Linked DNA regions of Homo sapiens. The protein of the gene in region 1 purifies or fractionates together with the protein of each later gene. This does not show direct contact. Each region holds a gene or a part of one and is shown on either strand. Other genes may lie near its edges.

Evidence for each region.
Region 2: the proteins of GRPR (region 1) and GPR89A purify together in Homo sapiens (affinity purification with mass spectrometry, with the first as the bait; 2 studies listed by BioGRID). This does not show direct contact.

The regions. Positions count from the first base shown.
Region 1 is NC_000023.11:16,126,488-16,130,238, reverse strand, and holds part of GRPR (gastrin-releasing peptide receptor), read right to left. Parts: intron 1-3,751. UniProt on the Homo sapiens protein: Receptor for gastrin-releasing peptide (GRP). Signals via association with G proteins that activate a phosphatidylinositol-calcium second messenger system, resulting in Akt phosphorylation. Contributes to the regulation of food intake.
Region 2 is NC_000001.11:145,606,416-145,610,166, reverse strand, and holds the start of GPR89A (Golgi pH regulator A), read right to left. Parts: upstream 2,180-3,751; 5' UTR 2,034-2,179; coding exon 1,992-2,033; intron 1,550-1,991; exon of another isoform or gene 1,492-1,549; intron 1-1,491. UniProt on the Homo sapiens protein: Voltage-gated channel that enables the transfer of anions such as iodide, chloride, bromide and fluoride which may function in counter-ion conductance and participates in Golgi acidification.

The sequences.
Region 1 (3,751 bases):
GCCTGGCTACTGTAGAAGACACAGATCCCTATGAACCACCCCATACGATTAAGGAAGTATAAAACACATCTCTAACAAAGACCTAGTAGTACAGGATAGATTTGGCATTTAATGAACAATACAGGCAGAAACATCTTAGGAAGGGAAAAAAAATCAATGAAAGCCAAAGATCAGGGAATGCTTCATAGAAGAGAAAGGACTTGAACTATCCCTTGAAGGATTGATAGGATTTGGGTAGATGGAAAGAATAGGGCCCAGCCATCAGAGAAGGGGAAATGAAGTTAGAGGGGGAGAAGTCTGGTGGCACATGTGGGAGGCAGTGAGAAGAGTTTGGCTAGAGCAGTGTTTGTTCTGGCAAGTCTTGGGACAGGGGGATATAAAAGAGAGACTGGCAGCTGGAAGAGGACCTACAAGAAAGAATGAAAGGATCAGACACAAGTTCACAGTGGAGACCTGGAAAGCTGACCCCTCATGTCTTTGGAAAGCCTCAAAACCTCATCAATGGGATGCCTAAATTCCCCAAGCCTGTGACTACAGATGATATGGGGCTGCTTCATTTCTTCCCTCTTCACTTGTGTGTGTCTTCCAACAGAAGATATTTCACAGACAGAAAGAGCCTGTGCAGCTGGGAGGCATTTGATATTTGCCTATCTGAGGAATTCCTGATACCCTCTGTGAGAGAGAGGAGCAAACGTGTATCCTGGGGAAGAAATTTGGACCCCAAAGCATATAGCAAACTCTTTTCTAAACTGTCCAATAGAGCCCTCTGCAATGACTGAAGTGTTCTCTGTCTCCACTGCCCAATAGAGTAGCCACTAGCCACATGTGGCTACTGAGCACTTGATGTGTGGCTGGTGTGATGAGGAAATGAAATTTTCCATTTCATTTAAATTAAATGCAAATTTAAATAGCCACATGTGGTTAGTGGCTACCAAGTTAGACCATACAACTCTAGATGTCGGGAAAGCTACAAACCATGTTATCACATACATTCCTTGCAGAAAATTCAAAGAATCTGTACTTCAAGAAGTTTGCAGAAATATAACACCTTCCTGTTTCTTTCCACATTCCAAATAACAAAGAAACTTATAACCAGTCTTTCCATAGAATCAAAGAAGAATCATGTTACAGTGGAACCGCCATATCCATCTGTCCTTAGAATCCATTCTGCCAGCCCCATTCTAGTAAAAATAACACTGAATAATGGCACTGAAGCAGGCTTGATATAACTTGGGCATTACATATATTGTCAACATTAAATTCAGCTTTAAACCTTACACTTACTGGAAAAGAAAACACAAACCACGCTCACCCTTTTTCTGTTGAGGGTCCAATTCAGGTCTCAAATTTCATTTACATAATAATGAGGCACCTAGCACAAAGGTGGACATCTAATAGGAAGGACCAGTATGTAAAAAATATCTCCATCTATCCAACCATTCATCCATCTATCCACCCATCTGTCCACTCATACATGTAACCCACCCAATCAGCCAGCCAGCCATCTATCCATCCATCTGTCCACTCATACATGTAACCCACCCAATCAGCTAGCCAGCCATCTATCCATCCATCCACCCATCTATTTATCCCCTGAATCTACTTACTGACCCACAAAAAATAGTTTTTCTTTCATTTACCCAGATAATGAGAGCTTAATAGAGAACAGATGAGCAGGTGACTATGTGATACGTTATTGTTATTATTATTATTATTATTATTTTGGGATGGAGTCTTGCTCTGTCATTCAGGCTGGAGTACAGTGGCACAATGTCGGCTCACTGCAACCTCCGCCTCCTGGGTTCAAGCAATTCTCCTGCCTCAGCCTCCCAAGTAACTGGGATGACAGGCTCCTGCCACCACACCCGGCTAATTTTTGTATTTTTAGTAGAGACGAGGTTTCACCATGTTGTCCAGGCTGGTCTCAAACTCCTGACCTCAAGTGATCCACCCACCTTGGCCACCCAAAGTGCTGGGATTACAGGCGCGAGCCACTGCGCCCGGCCAATACATTATTTTTAAGAGTATGCTTTCAGATTAATCCTCAAAATAGAATGAAGAATAAGAATGAGGAAAATTGTATGCATTAACTAAACGTAATTTTAATTAGTCAATATTTATTGATCACCCATTTGGCACAAGAAAACTTGAGGGGCACTATGGAAGATTTAAGAATATATTGAAAATCTCTGCCTTCAACATTCTTAATAATCTACCTAAAAAATGTAAAGCAATGAATATATGAGAGGCTAAAATAAACAGACAAACAAAACACTTCCAAACAGCAATATAAAAGGTGTCACAAGATAATTCATGTCTCAGATAATAAGTCTGATATTTCAAGAGGGTCAGGAAATTTGAGCTAGAATGGCTCAACTTAGGGCTTTAAGGAGGAGATTTGAATCAGATTCTGAATGATAGACAAGAAGATAGAAAAAACAATCACAAGATTTTAGAACTTGAAGGGACCATAGACATTGCCTAGCTCGACTCCATCATTTTATAGATGATTAAACTAAGGTCAGAGAGTTAAGTGACTTAGTCCCACTTTCTCATACGGGTAGTAATGGCAGGAAAATGTCTAAAATGCAGGTTTGTTGATACCCATTCCAAGCCCAAATGCCACATGGGATGAGGAATACAGTCTGTATTTAGGAAAGGAGAAAGCATTCTGGAGAGCGGGTGGGACACAGCATAAGCCAGGAAACAGAGCCAGGAACACATCAGTGCAACCACTGTGTATGAGGATATCAGTGTGTGTGTAAGGACAGAAAGCATGGGAGGAGAGGGAGGATGGGGATCAATATTGAAGGTGGTTGAATGCAAACCTACAACTGCTCAGCTGTGCAAATCCCCAGAATTCTGGTTTCTGGGACTGCCTTGAAGTCTCCCTTTTACCCGGTGATGCCAGTGTAAACTTTTCTAGAAACTTGATATTCTTTTCATATTGACAAAGACTCGAATTCACCCGGTGAAGGGGGGAACTGCAGAAGGGAAGCTGGAATGAGGACTGGCAATGCTGGGCAATGTATAGGGGGCAGGGATGGATGGTTATCACTATGTGCCCCACTCATGCCTCAGAACCCTGAATTCAGTAGATTTAGGACAGGGCCTAGGAATCTGTATGTTTTTAAAGCTCCCCTGTGACTCTGGTGATCATCTGGTTTGGAGGGTCTTCTAGTTCATTCACTTTTTCACCAATCTACCTAATACAGACTACCACCTTGAAAACTGACAATATTTAGTAAATATAGGCCCCTATAACCCAGCAATTTCACTCGCAGACATATATCCAAGAAAAATAAACACTTATGTTTCCCCAAAGACATGAATAAGAATGTCCAGAGCAGGTTATCATCATCCCCAAACTAAAAACAACCCAGTGTCCATCGGTATTAGAAGGAATAAATAAACCAAAGTGTATTCATACAATGGAACACCACACACAATTAAAAAGAACAAACCACACTGTTACACGTATTAATACAGGTGAATATCACAGAGATAATGATAAGCATAAGAAGATAGATACAAAGGAGTACTTGCTATATGATTCCATTTATATGAGATTAAAGAACTGGCAAAAATAACCTATGGTGATTGGAATCAGAATAGTGATTGCCTCTGTATGGGGGTATTAACTAGGAAAGGGCATAAGAGAAACTCTGGGGGATGCTGGAACTGTTCTATATCTCCATCTGGTTATGCAGTTCTATAGACATATGTAAAAATATATTGAGCTGTTACTTGT
Region 2 (3,751 bases), on another chromosome or scaffold:
AGAGAGGTGCTTTTTATTAAACAAATATTCACTACAACTCTACTATGTGCCCGCAACTGATCTAGATGCTGGTGAATACAGGAGAGAACAAGACAGACAGTATCTTGGACCTCATGGACAGATAACAAACACATGAATATACAAATGAACCATAGTAATAAATGCCAAGAAGAAAATAAAACATGGAAATGAGGAAGAAGGCAGCCGAAATGGAAAGCTACTTTGGTTGTGGGCAGGGTGTCAGGTAAGACCTTCCTAAAGCGACATTTTTATTAATACCGAAAGGATGATAAAGTAGCCACATAAATATCTGAACAGAGAACATTCCATGCAAAGGAATCTTTGGGTCTTTCTTCCACATTTGTAAAAACCAGGTTTAACAATTAATTACTGCATGTGGATGCATGTGTGAAGTGAAAGTCTATGATTATAAGGCATACAAAATTAGAAAGCCACTTCCTCGGTTCAACGTATCAATTATATCCATGCTAAAAATCGTAGAGGCTGCAATGCAAAGCCAATTTTCTACTGACATTCTTATCTTTATTCTAAATGAAAAGAAAAGCTAATTAAATATTGTTATTTTTCTTAAATTGGTACTAAGGCTAAAAATAACCCTGAGTTGTCACCAAGGGCACTGGGTAGTCTTAGAAAGGTTTTAAGCAGAAGAGTTACATGTCTAGGTTTTTTTACATTAATACATTTGAATATTATGCAGCCAATAAAAACAATACTTATGAAAACTATAGAAAAGGTGGTAAATTTTAAAAATGAAAAAACTATTGCATTAGAGTGGTAGGATTATGGATGGCTTTTCCTTCTTTCTTATTTTCTTAAATATTGTAAACAAGTTTTTGAAGAGAAAAGGACAATGCTCCGCTCTACGGAGACGAGTATTAGGATGAAGCAATACAAAAACGGAATCAAAGAACACAAATTTAGTTCACTTTAAGCCCCCAAAGGTAACTGCTTCTGTTATTTGCCGTTTGAGAGAAAGAACAAGTAAAAACAACCACACACACACAAAATCTTTATTGGAAAGATGGGGGGAAGAAGGTCAACAGGCAGTCTGAGCTTCACAAATATTGGCCAACAATTATTTATTGAATGCCTGCACTTGGAAGTGGGGATACAGCTATGAACAAGGCAGGATCTCAAAAAACAAAATCAGAAACACAGACATAAATGATGCCAGTGCTATGATGAATGCTAGGAAGAAACAATAATTAACAATAGATTACATGGTAAAAGCAAGAGGCTAACTAGACGAAACTTCTATTGAGCAGAGACAGTGTCTTACATGTTTTTACGCTCAGAGCTTTATATAATGGTCGATAAATGTTTGTTGACTGTACAAACAAATGAAGGTGGCCAATGGAGAAGAAATGAGGGTCAGAAAAACATCCGGAAAAGGTGGGTAACTAAGCAGAGGATAAAGGACGAGGTGTCAGTGCAAAAACGAAACCTTATACTTTCAAGCACAGGTATTACCTTATACTGATACTTTGAAGCAGCAAATTTCTCCACACCCGGATTCAGGATTTGACATCTAACAGCAAAGCCTGCACTGACGTGTCCTCAGTATCCAGTATTGGCGCGTCGCACACCGCGCGCCCAGAACCACACAGGCTTCCCCAGTCCAGGATCAGTTGGCGCAGCCCGGAAGCTTCGAGGAGCTCCTAGAACCGCCGCCTTAGCTGGCGGCGCCGGCTCTTAGCCTGGAGGTCGGCGGACCGCTTCCAAAAGTGGACCGAAATTCCGGGGATGGATGCCGGGTGGGGACGCGGACGGCCGCAGGCCAGTCTCCTGACAGCCGGGGCTGAGGGAACCGGCCGCAGCAAATCGCACACCCTCTCTGGGTGCCAGAGTGACTAGCGCAGGACGCGTAAGAGAGGAGCGAGACCCCGGACCAGCCCGCACCGCGGAGGACCGGAGAGGGCGATTCGGTAAAGGGAGGCGGACGGGTGTCGGGGCGGGAGGCGGTGACTCACCTGGGAGGTAATCATGATGCTGGAGTCGATGAGGAAACTCATGGCGAAGTGTAAGGAAGGCTCCTGCCTCCACTTCCCACTCCCCGAGGCCACAGCACGCTGGGGCCACAGGCCCCCTCACACGGTCTGCCTTCTCCCAGGTGCTGCAGCCGGGACTGCGGCTCTCCAGCCCGACGCCATCAAGCTGCGCCCCAGTCAGCCAATCAGCGTCTACATCCACAGCCCCGCCTCGGGCTCGGGGTGGGTGGGGCGGACGCTAGGCTCCCGCCGCGGAGGCCCCAGGGGCGGGGCTTATTAGGGGCGGTGCTAAAAGCAGCAATGCAAGGTAGCGTTAACGTTTCTGAGGCTGAAGGAGGTAGGGCCTGAGAGCTAAGTGGTAATTCTGTTTTGTAATGATCCTAAGATAATAATGGTAATTATAGTAAGTCGGGCATTGTGTCCTAAATGTTATAACTTTTACTTGACTCGGCAAATATGACTGTACAAAGTGAGGGAAGACTGGAAAGTCAGATGAGATATGAACAAATATAACTAACCAAATACATTTCTGTGACAACAATGAAAAGCACACTGTCTGTAGCAATTTAGTGATAATATTGTACTGCATATCAGTCAGGCCACAGGTGGAGTACTGCACTCCATGTACCACACTTTGAAGAGATTTTACAGGCCGGGCCGGCTCACGCCTGTAATCCCAGCACCTGGGGAGACCAAGGCGGGCGGATCACCTGAGGTCGCAAGTTCAAAACCAGCCTGACAAGCATGGAGAAACCCTGTCTCTACTAAAAATACAAAATTAGCCGGGCGTGGTGGTGCATGCCTGTAATCCCAACTACTAGGGAGGCTGAGGCAGGAGAATCGCTTGAACCCGGGAGGGGAGGTTGCGGTGAGCCGAGATCGCGCCATTGCACTCCAGCCTGGGCAACAAGAGCGAAACTCCATCTCAAAAAAAAAAAAAAAGAAAAGAAAAAAGAAGAGAGAGATTCTACAGAGACATATTGGAGCTCGCTCAAATGTGAGCCACCAGATAAGGGCTGCTGGAAGGAGGCGAAGAAAGATGACTCAGAACATGACATCTGTCTTCATGTGAAAGAATGGGTAGAACTGATGTGGCGCTACGAATTATCTGTAGGGCAAAGGACTGGAAGTTAAATGAAGATAGATTTTAATTCAAAACAAGGATCAGTTCTTTAAGAGTCTGAAGAAGGGTTATTTTAGGAAGTAGCTGCCTCTGCCCCCTTCCCACCTATTGCAGTGGATCAAATATACACTGAATCACTACCTCATTCATTCAACACTCATTTCATGAAGGCTTAACGCATTGCTGTGGGGCTTACTCTGCCGCCGACCTGGGGCCTAGCTAGGCTTTGTAGTCTATATAGTCTCATAGTCCTGCAAACTGGCTCCAGCCCAGGAAATCACCCTGTGTAGGAGTGGCTGCAGTCAAGACGCAGGAAGACAATCCTGAGGGGACCTGACATCCAGCATCTGAGTTCAGACTACTATAGTTTGAATAAGTGATCTGCAGATTCATTATACACAAGGGAACATGTCTTCCTTTTGTTGGATTGAACTCTGTGATACCAAGCAGTCAAAACTACCTGTCAGATGTCCAATCCCTGATCCAGAATTTCAAGGAGCTATGGAGGCAGCTGTACAATGGGAGTGTCATAAACCAGAGAACTTTGTGTCCAGGCTATATCTATTAGGTAAGCAGGTAGATTCCCACATAACAGCACCTAACTGACATTCAAGAGTGT